2 separate regions of the Homo sapiens genome follow, and region 2 is linked to region 1. Evidence: fine-mapped expression QTL. A gene starts in region 1. The other region holds a variant in brackets. All regions are shown on one strand. Distances are between the middles of the regions. Region 1 holds the start of MBIP (MAP3K12 binding inhibitory protein 1). Region 2 overlaps LOC107984003 (a long non-coding RNA gene).

The links.
Region 2: its variant is fine-mapped to the expression of MBIP in whole blood (TOPMed, PIP above 0.99).

What each region holds. Positions count from the first base shown.
Region 1 is chr14:36,316,456-36,324,804 of GRCh38, reverse strand. MBIP (MAP3K12 binding inhibitory protein 1) reads left to right here and starts at 4,168. Exons shown (of 9, transcript NM_016586.3): 1 at 4,168-4,345; 2 at 7,993-8,112. The coding sequence starts at 4,217. RefSeq lists enhancers at 3,770-3,819, 4,220-4,479.
Region 2 is chr14:36,278,714-36,287,062 of GRCh38, reverse strand. The region is part of intron 2 of LOC107984003 (a long non-coding RNA gene); the gene reads right to left. Among named protein-coding and RNA genes, the nearest start is that of MBIP, 38 kb to the left of the region's middle. RefSeq lists an enhancer at 6,927-7,575. The variant C/T (reference allele first, on the strand shown) is at 3,647.

The sequences.
Region 1 (8,349 bases):
CTGAATGTACTACCTCTGTGATACTTTGTTTTATTACCTTTTCAGTTAATTAACCACTTACCATAATTAACAATGTTTATAGTAAACTTTCTCTGTTCAGATAACATGTATGGCTTCTGTTTCCTGATTAAACCTCAACTGATACAGAAATTGGTATGAGATTTATTTATACCAGTAAGTAAATCTTCAAAAATGGGAGTTTGAGATTGGTTTAGTTATGTCCTTGGGCTTGACTGCACTGCTAAACTCCTTGCTAATAGGAAGTAATGTTGTGAGCCATTGCATGAAATGGCAATACAATTTGCCAATTATTATCCCAATTTACTTGATCATGAACTGTTTTGCTAAAATTAGCACATTATAGACTAGCATTCCATAAAATACACTTTAGGAAATGCTTGCTTAGCCATACTTCTCTATTTAATGTATCCTCCCTAAACATATTAAGCATGTTCAAGTTGCTGTTCATGTTTTCTATAAATTCCTTGAGAATTCTTATTTATCAATTCATATTTTGATATCAAATTCATATTTTTATCAATATCAATTCAGATTTTACTTTAAGTGTTTATAGCTTTTCCTGATTCTGGACCCAACCCCCTCCCCAAAGGAACTAATTGGCTGCATTACTTTATACATACCTCTAATATGGCCATTGTCACATTATATGAAGTTGTTTGTTTATATATCTACCTATCCCACTAGAACGGGAGCTCTTTGAGGAACAGTCCTTGTCTGATTCATCTTTGTAGCTCAATGTCAATTAGAGTGCCTGGTATATAGTAGGTACAATTAATTTGTATGTGTAAAATTATTGAGAATGGTTATGAAGGCTAGCTATATTTACTCCCTTAAGAAAACTTAGAACACTTTGAATTTGCTGCCACAAAAGAGAATAAACAGACTTGTTTCGTTATTTAAAATAAATTGTTTATAGCAGTCTATATGTTACAATTTTCCTTCAACAATAGGCACTTGTTTACTTTTTTCCATTTTATAAATCTGTTCACTTATGAAGGCAAATAAATTCAGCTCAACAGGCATATACTGAGCAATTAACTCTGTGCCAGAAACTATGCTAAGCCTTATGTACACCAACATATAAATGCTTATAGTTCAATAAGGAGACAGATATAGTCAAATAAATTCAAGTATCACTGTGATAACTACAATAATAGAAGTATATACAAGTTGTAGGAGTAGTTTAGCAGAGGAGAAAATAAGCTCTTTATGAGGGGGGATTCCCCAAAGATTTTCTAACTGGAGTTTGAAAATGGAAAAGGAGTTTCTCAAGCAGACAACAGGCACTGGGTAAAAATCAAAGCATGGAGGCAAGAAATAGTAAAGTGTTGAAGACATAAAAGCAGTTTCAGAAGCACTAAGCACCAGATGGTTTGTGGCAGAAAATGAGGCTGGAAATTTAGGCAAAGGCCACATCATAAGAGCCTTCATGTCATTCTAAAGAACTTGGACTTATGCAGCAGGTGATGGGGAGACAGGGACGACAAATACCATTTATTTTACTTTTTCTGCATTGAAATAAAATCTGTATTATCATATATGCAACAAACATCAGTTGAGCCCTTCTAATACCTCAGGTATTTTGCTGGGAACTGGGTTATTCAATAGAGTTATGCCATTAAAGCTCACCATAAAAGACATTTTTGTTGATAAGGTAAATAGCCTAGATTTCATTTATAGTCTCTATCCTCCCAATTGATTCTTGGCATAAGCCTGCTGGACAGTATTTCTAACTCTGTTGCTAACGCGAACACCAACACTTTGAATCATTTCTGCCAGGCAGCAGATTTTTCAGCAACCCACTTTATAAACTGTAATTAGTTTTCCATAAAGAGCAAATTATTCCCTTTATTCCCTTTCTAAATTTCATAGCGCATATTATACTTTTGTTATACATACATACACACATACAATATCTACAAATTTCTATTTTGAGTTGGCCCAAAGGAATCCAAATCTTTTCAGGCTACAAACTCTTCTATTTAAAATAGAATTTTCTATTATAAAATAAGAAAATGAGAAAAATTTCCAAAATGAAGGTAATAGGCATCAAGAAGAGTAAGAAAGGTCCTTAGAAAGAAGAAAGAATGCACAAAAGAGTTAACAAATTTTAAGTACTACTGGTTGAGTATCCCTTATCTGAACTACTTGGGACCAGAAGTGTCTCAGATTTCGGATTTTTTTTAGATTTTGGAATATTTGCATATATATAATAAGCTATCTTGGGGATGGGACCCAAATCTAAACACAAAATTCATTTATGTTTCATGTATACTTTATACACATAACTTGAAGGTAATTTTATATAATGTTTTAAATAATTCTGTGCATGAAACAAAGTTTTGACTACATTTTAACTGTGACCTGTTATGTCGGATCAGGTGTGAAATTTTCCACTTGTGGTACTGGCACTCAAAAAGTTTCAAATTTTGGATCATTTTGGATTTTGAATTTTCAGATTAGGAATGCTCAACCTGTACCTAAGTAAAGAATACTAAGATACAAGTGCAGGTCTGGATATCAAATCACAGAATTACATGGAGAAGCAATACACAGATCAAATGGCCATCAGTTAATTCTGTATTAGAGGCTCAAAAGAACAAGTAAAACTTGAAAATTCAAAATCAATGATGGCAAAGAAAGGAATAGCAGCACCTTGTTAAAGACAACATTTTTTAAATATACAAAGCATATTCCCAAATGTGTTGCATATCAGTGTTCTCCATATTTGAAAAAATATGAAACACCTCAATGAAAACAAATGATCTGAAACTGATTGCTAATTTGGTACAAAACAAAAACTTACAGTTACCCCATTACCATGCTTGAATAAGAAGGTTGCTCAATTTGAGACTGGACATTGTGAAGTATTTTTCTGCCTGTAGAAATAGGCTGGAATGTCAGTTGTATATCTTGCTGCCAACAAGGGAACAGAAAAGATTTCCCAAGATTCTGTCAAGCCTGGTGATCCCATTTGTCTTTGGAAATGAAAGCCTAATTAAGAGACTCCCTAGGGACAGGTCAAAGGAGTTTTTATCCCCATCGTCCTTATCTTAGTTCCTTGATGCATTAGTCCTTCCCTTTAATTTAGTCTACCCTAAAACTAAAGAATACACATTGTGCAAGTTTCCACCTTTGCTTTCTCTACTGTAAATGCATTAGACTATTAACAGAATTACGAGTTTTAAATCCCACCTTCCTTATCTCTAAGCTGATGTTGATTTCTTAAAGTGTTTTTGAATAAAGCTTAACACTAAAAATTATTGTAATACTTTAATTGGATAACACTTTTTAAAAATATCGGAGTCTGACTAAAAGATTACAAAACCCCACAAACATCGTTATAATAAAGCTATTATGATAAATAATACTTTGTAAAATTTGAATTCGGTTTTATGTCCTAATTTCAAAGATTGTGGTTGCATGATATTATTTATCCAGGTTAAATTCCTGTTGGAATTATATTGACAGTGTTTCATTTCTTTGAAACAATTTTAGGGTTAAGCGTCTCTACAGTTAAAACAGAGAATATCAACTGTAGTCCCAGTTACTCAGGAGGCTGAGGCAGGAGAACCGCTTGAACCTGGGAGGCGGAGGTTGCAGTGAGCCGAGGTAGTGCCACTGCACTCCAGTCTGGGCGACAGAGTGAGACTCTGTCTCCAAAACAACAACAACAAACTTGAAGAGATGAAAATGTTCTATCCAATCATGATAATTCCGTGTGAGTTTTCCAATGTTTAGAAACACGTGTGGGCACCACTCCATCCCTGACCAGCAAGCTTCCTCCAGACCCACTCCACACCGCCATGTTAAAATGTCAACTTTTACTTTTTGGACTCAAACTACAAAATTTAACTATGTCTCCTCTTACCAAGATTCACAATGAACACCTAGGAGTCAAGGTAGGCTTCATAACGCTAAAGAGACCACGACTCTAATGACCACCCCAAACACAGCATTCCAGCCTAGCTGTGGTCTGCAATTACCCACTTCAGAGCCTCGGCGCAATGTCACAGCTGCAACTGATTGGTGTAACGTGCTTGTCATTCACATAGAGAGGGTGGGGCCTCAAAGCCCGATCTAAACCAGACTCCGTGTCTTACGTCATCGCCAAGCGACTAAAGCTGGAAGGGAGGGGGCGGGGTTGTGAGCAAATCTTGGTGGTGGTGGTGGTGGGGCGGCCTGAGAAGATATCATGGCTGCTGCCACGGAGCTTAATCGCCCGAGCAGCGGTGACAGGAACCTGGAGCGAAGATGCAGACCCAACCTCTCCCGAGAGGTGCTCTACGAAATCTTTCGCTCCCTACACACCCTGGTTGGACAGGTGAGAGGTGGCCTGAGGGACTGGGAATATGGAAACCATCCGGTCCCTCCTCGCCATTCTTTTTCTCTAGCAGAGGCCGGGGGCAGCTAGGCCTGCAGAGGTGTGGGATGCGGTCCCGAAGCCGAGGTGTGGAAGGAGCCCGGGCCCAGCCTCCTCGGTCGGAGTGAGGAGGACGGCGGTACCGGTTGCAGAGTCGTTTACCTTGCAGCTGTCCTCCCCAAGAGTGGGTGAGGTTGGCCTAAGTGAAAACCCGGCTCCGAGAGAGGCAGGCTTGGAGAGAATGAATGTGGAAAAGCTTCACTGCGAGTTTAGGAGGCGCTTAGCGTTCAGGGTCCTTTTTCCTCCAACTTACTCTTTATGGGAATTGGTTGGTCAGTAGGCCTGAGATTTATAGAAAAGCGCGCGCTTATTAGCTTTTTTTGGTGGGGGAGGGAGTAATTTGTTCTTATGAGTTACTTGGTTTTGTTTATTTCTTTTTTCCTTCGGGCTGTTTTGCGCATCTATAATCCTTTCAAATGGGGAGAAAAGTAAAAGGAATTCATTTAAAATACTTCTAGCGTAAAATGCTGTTGGCGTTAGAACTGTCGTTATTTAACTATTAACTAGTTTAACTGGCTGATAAATCGCTTTTGCAGAAATGTCATAGTAAAATTGGTTTTAAATTGAAATGGGCTTCTTCGATCAAGTCACTGTTTCGTTTCATGGTGTAAAATTCAAGTTTTAAATGAGAAACAATTTAAAAGTATGCTTGTTTACCTGCCTTTTAAAAGGAAATATTTTCTATCTTACATAGACCATTTTCTAGCCGTAAAAGTTTGTTTTGGGGCTGGTACTAGCGCAAGTGGACAAAGCAGGCATTTGTGTCAAAGATAATGGTAAATTCCTATGAAAATAGAACATTTGTCTGATTTGTGAAAATTATTTTTAAAGCCTTGAGTAGATGGAGAATCAGTCTTTTAAGAAGTTACTATTTTTAAAAATCGTAGTATGTTGTGTCTTACAAAGAACATTACTGTAAGTTAAACGGTTTTATGAAATGACGCAGTTATTAATGGAGTCTGCTTAAAGATATAACTTTTAAATTCAGTTGTTTGCCAAGTACTTACCAAAAACATTTTTTAAAGACTTGGGGTGTTTTGTTATTAACATTCCATTCTTAAGACCCAAGACGTTTAAATGGTTTAAAAGTTAGAGAACTTTTTATGGCGACGTTGGAACTTAAGTTTATTTATTTTATAATGTCAAGATGAAAAAAGTTTATTCTCACCTGTTAACAGAAGATGGAATATTTTTAAAAAATACTGAGCAATGATTTAAACATTTCTTTTGAAATATTTTGCATACTGAATTTTTCAAACTCATTAGAAAATTTTAAACATTCAAGTACTGTACAAGTAAAGAAGTGATTACAATTTACTTATGTCACCTGTCAAAAATGTTCACAGTAAATATTTGGTTACTTTACCATGACACAGTGAAGGGACCTCCTATACAAGTGTCAAAAATATGATTGTTTCATCAATTAAATACAAACTGTTTTCATAATACTCTATATTTTGAGAAGTGTTAAGAGTGAAAATTAGAGTTCCATACTTATAAAATTGCCCCCAGAGAAATCAGTATTTTCTTTTGCAACCACTTTAAAGGATATTTAGAATGTATGTTGTAACATGCCTAACTTCATCCTGTGTCATCCCTAAGTATCGTTGTATTATTAGATCTCCTCAGTAGGAAACATAAAACTGAATGTTAAAAATAATTTTTTACTTAAGATCACAAAATTTACTAATTTTAACCTTTTTGCTTGCCTCTGGATGGTCCATCTTACCAAGCTAAACAATTATTTATTTTTAGCTTGGATTTTTGTATTAATTTAGTAAAGTTTTTACTGAAAATATATATTTAAATAGTCTATATTAATAGCAGACTAATAGAGATTTTCGAGTGAGTGGTTTACTCTTCCAAGTTCTGTAGGGCAAAATGCATAGAGTTCATATTACTAATAATGAATTTGTTGAATGAATAGTTAGATGTATTAGGACAGTTTTAAAATTAATTTGTGACATTATGTGGTTTTCTTAAAAGACTAATTATTCTTAATTGCACTTGAAGCTTATGTAATTCTGCTGAATTGAAATGAGAATATGAACCAAACATTAAGACTTATTTTTCTATAAGTTATTTTCTCTAGAAAATGTGATACTTTGCTTTGGTTGAGGATTTGCCTGCTTTATCCCCAAGCTGTATTCTTAAGTTTTCTATAATCAACTATAGATCTCCTTGAAGACTATGAAAGTACATTAATGGGTTACTTCCATACATAATACAGGTTGTTGTCTAACAAAATCTTTATAGGAATTAAAGTAATATAAATTAATGCATTAACTTTAATGTACAATCTTAATATATTCTAATCTTTGCCAGTGCAGCCTACATGAAATTTCATATCTCTTTATACTTGTCTAATATGGACTTTTAAATGCTTCCATTCTCATCTTCAAAGGGCAGTAAATTTCTGTCACATAGTATTTATTCAATATATTATCTTTTTATTGGTAACCTTATATCTTTTTGATCTTTGTACAGTGATTCATCTTTTTTATTATAATTGTGACTCATAAAATCTGTATTTGAACTCACGTAACACCTTTATTTTGTAGAAAAGATGACTCATTTTGAATAAATTATGTTAACTTGATTCTACTATGAAGTATAGTCTTATACTATGCTGTAAACACATGTCCCTAGAAAAGTTTTTGATGGTTCACTTTTATTCATTCAAAAGACTGCAGATGGGCGCTCTCATTGTAAAATTTTCACTCATTTTGATAATAATCTTATATTCAGGTTCTTGGTAGTTTTCTGGATATGATTTTATTCTATTAGATCACCAACTGATAGAAATTTCCATATAATGAGCTGTCACATCTTAGCATTTACAAAAGATCTGGACATTTCATCCAGTCTGACAACTTATTTCACTGTGGTGGAGAAGTCTTTGTTTTTCAGCTTCAGACTTCCATTGCTAAATAATAGTTTTTTATTTGAAATAAACATGTTGCCATTTATCCCTACACTTTATATGTATGAATAATCTTGACTTTTAAATTAGTTTAAAAATCGGTTAAAAGTTAAAAAACTAAAAATGTGATTTGGAGGACATCAGAATAATGATATATTTCTGATATGTATTTGTGTACATACTTAAAGAGAAAGATGCATGTTAAAACTTTCACAAAACACTTGTACTTCCTCTGTTTAAGGCTCTGAGCTAGAAGTAGTAGGATTCTGAATAGGGCAAGCCTATATTGGACTCCATCCAAAGGTTTGTATATATTGAAGTATCAAAAGAGCCTTCATCTTTTCATCTTTCATGAATGGTTTTACCTCTAAAATGGTCCCATTACACAGACCTAAGAATAGAATTTGAACGACATGTCATTTTGTTTTTGTTTTTTTATGAAAATCTGTAGCTTTCTTGGCCTTTTGAAATGGTAACTGGGTAGAGCATTTCAGTGTATTATTAAAAACTTGATAACTTAGAGCAAAATAGACCCGTTACTCTAGAAATCTTATTTTTGTGACAATTCCATATGTAGAGCTTAATCGTGTAATTTTTGTGATGTTGCTGGTTTGCCCCTTTGAAGCTTGACCTCAGAGATGATGTGGTGAAAATTACAATCGATTGGAACAAGCTCCAGAGCCTCTCGGCATTCCAGCCTGCATTGCTCTTTAGTGCACTTGAACAACACATTTTATATTTACAGGTAAATTTCTTGTTAGAAATGATAACCCGATATTGAAAATAGAAATTGATTGTGGTTAAGTTAGTTGGAGTATTTGACAGTTCTAAACACTATATTAATAGTGTTGCTAATAAAACGTTATTTACATCCGGATTTAATCTAAATCTGTTAATTTCAGTAGTGATCAGGACAGTTAAGGGAATATAGCCCAAAAGACCAATGTGGGTATGAGTGAATGAATGCAATTCTATTCAATTC
Region 2 (8,349 bases), 38 kb after region 1:
ATTAATAAACTTTTTTCTGCAGCAGAAAGGCCATCTGTTGAACTCTGTCATTCAGTCAAAGCTATAGAAAATGTAACCACCTTGTCTTCATTTATTCATTGAACTTATTGTCATTGTTTAGCCGTCATGCATGAAGCACTGTGTCATACGATGGGGTGGGAAGAGTGTGAGAGGGACCCTTGAGAGTGAAGAACGGTCCAGATCTGAAAAGCCTTGCAAATCACTGAATCACTGGCTTAAGGAGCCGGTGGGAAGAGCAGGTGGATGGCCCGATCAGAGTGGCACGTTAGAAAAATCACTCTGGCTTCTGGCTACAGTGTGCAGAATGGATCACTATGCTCGGGTACATTACATTTGGTTAATAAGTTATTTTTGTAAAGAGGGTCTTAACCTCTAGGCCTCAAAGCAAAAATTTCAGAAAAGGGCATTGAAGAAGCCACAAACCCATTTTTAAATAACTTATTATGGCCTGTTTAAATATAGTTTTTAAGGTAATTATCTGTATAGCAAACATCTGCAATTTTATTCAATTCTGTGAATTTTTACTAATAGATAAGAGGCAAAAATGGAGAAGAAGGAAGAAAGAACTGGCAGGAACTAACAATTTTGAGTAGTGTATGAGGACTTCTCATGCATTATCTCATTTAATCCTTACAATAAGCAAAGAGCTTACTGTATTATTATCTCTATTTGCAGACAGGAATTTGAGACTCAGAAAGGTGAGAAGTCCTCTGTAAGAGACAGGGCTGGGTAGCCTGCCCTCATCCTCTCCAAAGCCCGAGTTCTTGCCTCTGTAACAAATGGCAGATACATATACAGAACAGCTAAGTTAGGCAGCAGATGAGTAGGAGAAAGGCTGAGATAACCTTGAGTAAAAACAGAATAAAGGGGAAAATGTATAGGCCAAAGGGGAAAATTAATCGGCAAAATAAAAGCATGAGGAATTACCCTCTTGAAAAGAGCAAAAAGGCAACTGGCTTCTTGAATGAAGAGATATAGAGATGATCAACTTTGAATTTTTCAGCACATTACAAGTACAACCGTAACAGAATTGCCATTGAACTGCAGAATTCAAGAGATGGTCTTCTTGCAGAGGTACTAATATTAAAGATGAACTGCTACAGAAAAGAAGCCTACTTACTAACTTACTTTACACAACCCCTCTCACATGCCCTGGTATTTGACATTTGCGCGTGAGGCTTGATCAGCATCATATCCTCTGAAAGCCAGCTGCCTTTAGTAGATATGGCTGCCTGGCAGGATAACACTCCTTGCTATAGGGAACAGAAGGTATCCCGTCCCCAAAAGAAACCTTCACTCAGGTTTATGCCCCCAAACTCTTTGGAGGGAGATACCATCACCCTGACTGCATGCCCTTTCTAAGACACAGGCTAATCCAGGGTTAGTTGGGCAGACAATGGTCACCCGTATATTGAGATGTGAAGAGCATGGGAACTGTCTCCTTTAAAGCAGCCTCCCTCCTGCCCAGTAGGGATCTTGAATTAATATGTGTGGTTGAGTCTTTACCCCACTCACTTCATTCATTTTGGGTACTCCCCTACCAAAAACTCCAGGGAATGGAGCACTGAACTGCTGAGCTGAGATGGGGAGAGTGTGGTGGGGAAGGCGCTGGCCCAGGGTTATCAGCCTCAACAAGGCCAGCTAGGCAGGAAGCAAGTAAATCTATTTAAGTAAAGAGGACAGAGGCTGCATATCCAACATACCACAGAGTGTTGTGTACATAGAGTGTACAATCGATGTTTCTTATATAATTGTTGAGGTGTTATGAGAAGTAGGGATTAGGTGTCAGTCCCCAAACTACTGCTTATTTGACATGTTTTTCACTAGTTGTATCTGAACAGGCAAAAAAATTGCTTAGTTGCGCAATGTGGTGATGAAGGTAATATATGCCCTTCCCATGGGATATGCTATGTGCTGTGTGTGAGCTTTTGTCTTCCAAGTATGACGGGATGTTTATGCCTCTCTACTTATTATTAGCAAGGTACCAAAGAAAAAGGTGGAAGAGAAGGAAGAGAGAGGCAAGACAAAAACATACCAATACTCTTAGCTCCTTCCTGGCCACTAAGGCTTGTGTACAACTTTGTCCCAGAGGCAGTGTTTATTGAAGAATAAATTTTTGCTGAGAGACTTAAAATCTAACTGGCATTAGCTACCTAGAGATGGAAGGGGGAAGTCTTTGAAAATGTTGATTTAATAAACTAGCCAGCAGCCAGTACACCAGATGAGAACAGAAGGAGGGGAGAGAAACATTCCCTCTGCCAGAGCATTTTGCAGATAATTAAAGTAGAGACTTTGACTCACAGCAGGGCAATTTTAGCATACCTGACGCAGGGCTTGACTCAAGCTCCCTCAGTGTCCCTTCCAGTGCAGTTATGCTATTAGCTTTCATAATATTCCACATAAGGGAAGACACGTTTCTTCAAGCTATTCCATTTTTCAATTATTAAAGAGCTTTGAGTTTAAAAGTTCACCAAAAAACCCATCATGCCCCATCTTGGACATTACCCTTGTCTAATGGGTAGTAACAAGATCACTCTTTCAGACACTCAGTCCACATTACTTAAACATTCATCTGCTCCATTTCACACTTGGAATGGGCTGTGCAATAAACGTATTTGATCTTTTCTTTATTGTCTGTTTCAGGAATGTATGCAGGGTTTTCTTCTTTGCTATATAGGAGCAGATTTCTCCTTTGCAGTGTAGGAAGTGATTCACCTCTAGGAGGCTAATTTTTTATAGTTGAGTGCAGGATCTTAATAAATAAACCAAAAAGTGAAGTGCTATTTTGAACAGCCCTCACACCAGCAGGAAGAATCAGTGAATGAGGAACCATGGAAGACTGTTCACTACATACCCATTTACTCCAAAATATTATTTGGATCAGCATTGGATATTTTTAATAAATTATAAGTGATTCTTCTTTCTGTATTAATTAAGAATTTACACTACTCTTCAAGTGTTTTAACTCCCCCAGTGCCAAGCTTAAGTCCTCTGGATTAATCCTGATGCATGAAGAGCTTTGAAAACATAACAATGGTAAGCAACAACCCTGAGTGATTAAGAAATCAAGATGTGTGCAGGTGCTGGTAAAACACACACACGCACACACATACACACACACACACAAATACGGCAAATGAAAATTAGAAAAATTGCCCAGACATATTGTCAGAACAAACTAAAAATTTAAGGCTTGGAATATGCTAGATTTACATTACATCTCACTTCAGAAGAAAGTGTTAGAGGAAGAAGGCCAGGAAGACTATGAAAAACCAAAGCTCTTAGCAGAGGGCCTACCACAGAGGAAGTACTCAAGAAAAATGAGCATGAAACACAGAAAAATAAGGACAAAAGATAGAGATGAAAAGATAGCAATGAAAAGAAAATAACTTTTCTGTGGTTATTTTCTACAGTAGATTTACAGCACAAAAGGGGGACTCAAAGAATCTTTTGTCCAAGCTGGTGACATCTGATGAGGTATCCTAGATATGGCTATCAATGTACGCAGTCTATTTCAGTTTAACCAGTCAAGGATTAAAATCATTCTTCATATGCCAACATAATATTCTTATTCTCTTTCTGTAATACAAGACTGTTTCTCCATGCATCATCTCAGTTTGGAGAA[C/T]GGGTAGCAGAAAAATGGCTTCCTCCAAAGCAATTCTTTTCTATTTTGTTTTCTCCAAAGCAACTCTGAGAGGATGGCTACTGGGATTTTCAGCCCAGATCCTGTAAACCAGAGGCTTCCTTAGCAAGGAAGGAGACAACCAACACATAGATACTAAAGTATCTCCACTTAACAGAAACAGAGAACCAGGACTGGAAATTCCTCCCTCAGGGCTTCCCAGCAATGATCTCCCTAACAGTCTCATGGTTAAAACAGTAATCTCATTAAGTCATACTTTTATGGAATAAGAACATTCCCTAAAAAGCTACATGCTTCTGATTTTGCTTACCTTTTTCACAACATGCACATTCTCTTCACTGATAAATTTTTCATGGCAATAATACATAATTTGATAAGACTTTCTTGACAAACGCCCAGTGGAAATTTTAAACAGTGTTTCCTTTGGTCTCTCTCAGGGTAAGCCCCTGTCCACAGGTTCAGTTCGTTCTAAGAAATCATCTTAAAACTAAATATGTACACACTTCCTTCCTGACAGTCAATGTTCACTTTTACCTAAGCGTAACTGAGCAACCGGAGTTTTCAGGTGGGTTACAGAGTGGAAAACAAATACAAGCTAATTTCATGGAATAATCTCTCTAGGAAGAAACAAACCATATCAAAACAATCCCTTGTGTAGATCTTCAATTAAACTGTACTATATCATGGACAAAACACTCATCATAACTAGGAATAGATAGGTATTGTTTCAAACATATTATGTACAAATCATCTAATTTTTCAAGGTTAATGAGTGTAATTTATCCATCTTTGGTTACTGAAGGGGTTACATAGGATGAACAAAACTTAAGAGTTCATCCATTTCATTTCTGTTGATTTGCCTCTATTTGTTTGGCTTTTATGTCCATGTAATTGATTTGTATAAATCTGTCCAAAGCAGATGGGCAACTGCTCATGACACTTGCAAACCATTTAGATTATTATTGTACTGATGTTTATTCAAGGCCAAATGGGGAAAATATAAAAGGTGTGATGTTCAACTTAGCATAACAATATCATGAAAAATTTATTTGGTCTCAGCAGCAAAATAGATACTCTCTACCAATCAGTTTCATAAGTGCAGGTGAATCGCTTCTGTCTATGTGGCTGGACTAGCTACCCAAATTAATTATGGCACCATTTTCCAGTTTTACAACATAATGCAAACTCTCCAAGAGCATAATAGAAAGCATAATAGAAAGACAGTCATCTCCAATGCTACTAGATGTTAACATTTACATTGAAGACTTGTATATCTCTCCTCACGCTTTTGAATCAGAGGATTAAAAAAAATCATCTGCTAAAAATAAGTAAATAGATAGATACACATTTGAGAACCCAGAGAGAGCCATCATCTACTCAAATAGCACACTGATAGCATTGATTCTGTTTTTGTTCTTTTTTAAGGAATAGATTGTGATTATAATTTGCTACACAAAATTATATTTTGTTCTGTGTTTAGATTTGACACTTGCATAGATCTAAACAAATTTAAGTGCCATTGCTTAATAGACAAATAGAGATACATTGTTTTCTTTATGCCACCAGAAGCTAATTAAAACTGTTTCCCTAAAATCCTGATCAGTTAAAATGCTTTGGAAGCACTGGAAAATTATTTTAATTTTTTTCCCCCAAGTGCTAATGATCAACTCAGCCTATGACACAGACCAGAGGTGTCACAAAGACACTTAAGATGTGTGCCCAAGTAAGTCCATCTTGGAAGTGGGTATGCCTAAGTGAGAGGAAAAGCAAATGACCTCTAATATTTGACCTCACTGTGGTTGGATCTGTTAGGGTCTCACCAGTACTATCTTTTTTCCTCTAGGCGCAAGAGAAGACTACACTTCCCAGATGCCCTTGCAGTTTGAGAGGAACCATGTAACTGAGTTCTGGCCAATGGAATGTGTGTGGAAGTGAATAGCATGGTGTACGCTATTTCCTGACCTGGCCATTACCCTCCTGGTCTCTTTCTTACTAGAGTTTCTTTGAGGCCAATCCAAATTTACATGAAGAAACTTAGATTTACTTTAAAAATCAGATAGAATTTTAGGTGATTAGGCTGAAACTCTCTAAACAAAAAGGGTTTAAAATCCTTGAAGAATGAAAGTTGCCTGGGCCAGTCTAATACAAGCTATGAGCATCACAATAAACTGTTTTTTAAAGACTCTATGTCTTGGAAACTGAAAGTTCCACTTATAAAACACACATTACTGAATATCAAGGCTTAAGACACAGTCACGTAAAAAGGTTTTTAAAAAATCTGCCACATATAATGCAATTTTACTTTTGATTATTGTGAAGTCAGAATTCCAAATGCCTCAGATTCACCATTCTGAACATCAGTATTCTTTGAACAGTATTTCTGATGCAGAAGGTAGAGGTGACAGCTGAATTTAGAGCAGCCCATGCCATTCCCTAAATTGCATTGTTAATGAAACCCTTAAATGTAAATTTGTATTGCTTCCCTCTTTCTATGACGCCACCCAGACAAAACCACTTCAGTTATTTTAACTTTCCTACTTATTTATTGCAGATGAACAGGAATTTATTTTATATACATTACTTCAAAGTATTCTTATCATAAAATCTGTATTTACACCCTTCTCACAAAGACCAATTAATAGACTCTTTCCATAAGCAAAGGACTATTTAACTTACAGAAATATAAATGATGCCATGCTGTACATACTGATATTTTTAAAACCTCAATTTAAAAGGTGACAGATTTTACAATGATGGATAGGGCATTTAACAACTAACTCTAAAGTATACTTTAAGTCCCACATTTAAGTACTGCATAAAGGTTACTTTCTTTGTTTCCTTCTTTTATTCATCTATTTATAAATTCAAGGTCTTTGAAATGTTTTTCCTCTTATATTTAATGTAGCCTGATCTTTGCTTAGAAAAATACATTGCTACATTTATCAATTTTCTGATAGCTCCATAAACAACGTTAGCTTATAAAATGCTAGTACTGTAATATAATGGTAACACTACAAAAAGTTATATATTTTTTAAACCTTTTCCCCTTAAACGAATAATTATTGCTTAAAGAATAGTTTCTTCCAAAGGTGGCATTTGAATGGTATGGTTCATAATGCCACATGATAACCTCAGAGAGTGAATGAGCTTGTCACTAAGGCATCTAATCCTCTAGGCAAAAAATAAGAAAATGTGTTAGGACATAATTAAATACTTACTTCTGGGGAAAATATAGGAAAAGAAACTTCATCTTTTGTCAAACACACTTTTGTTAACCCAGACTTTGCCGGATTTGCAGCATGTCAAAACTGGTTCGTTCCTTAGCCATTTAAGAAGCAAGAATGCACACTCATTGTTCATGACTAGTTTCCACTCGCCTGTGACAAAACAGCTAGTTGGAGAGTCAGCCTCGGTCAGTGTCTATTTAGGGCAAAATGTCAAAAAAGAATGTCCTGCATTTGGGCTCAACAATAATGAACATGGCTAAATCTGAAAATTAACAAAAGAAAGTGAACAGCTTTTTAAATTCTGAGAACATTAGATTCTGGTGTCCTTTTTGTTCCGATTGTTGTGGCTTAACACTCTGAAAGGACCACCTGTTGGGCAGCCATTTTGTGATTGTATTGAATGCAGTGATTGCATAAAAGAACACTTTCCAAAATAACCTGGCATTATTATTCACTTATTTTGTAGTAAATCTGCATTCAAAACCTGCATTAAAATATAAGGCTTTCCTCCTAAGTGAAATTTAAAGCTATAAGTTTAATGGAAATGCATACTCAACTGCAAATGCATGATTTTATGGTCAAACGCATTATACACAAAAATGAGTTCAAGTAAACCTTTGATATGGCAATTAGAGAGTATGTTGAATAAAGTGAAACAGTTAAAAGTGGTGCATGGCAGACAGGGAATCCCAGAGGAAATGACACAAAACTGATAGCATGTAATTATTAGACTGACACAGAGACATAATGTAGTTGGAGAAAATTACTGTTGTCTATTAAAAGAATGTGATATCCTCAGCAATCCTGAAAGCATATTTTACTGGTATAATACCTCCGCTTTCATGAATAAAGGAAAAACCATGTCCCAAATTCGCAGGCTTTGTAATTCATTTATGCTAAAAATCTCTCCTAGAACACAGCGTAAACAAAAACATTATTGTTTAAGTCCAACTGGTGGAAAATGCTAGTTAATGCTGCAAGTGACAACTAAGAAAATAAAAGAGAATACTCAAAAGAGAAACTGTTCCTAAGATAAAAAGATCATTTGTTATAACTATCCAATGAATGTTTTAAGAGCATGCGTTTTGACATTGAAAATGATACTTGTATCAAAAATCATCTTTGGTGCATGAACACATTTTGGATGCTTGATTTGATTTTCAGTTTTGTGGCTACTTTAGGATAATGTGGAGAATAATAATTCTCTATTCCATGATTTTTATTATTACATGAGCCTGTAGAATTAATCCATGTTCTGAATTTGGAAAACACAATAACTTTCAAAATATTTTTTTAAATTACATCAAATAGTTTCTAAGGATTCTTAAATATGTTACATTTCAGTTTAATCCTGATTATAGTCTTTTTCTCAATATTATTTCATTTATTTTAACTGTGCTCTATGTAATGACCTAAAGTATATTATGTGGAATGAATGATTACATTGTCACAAACATC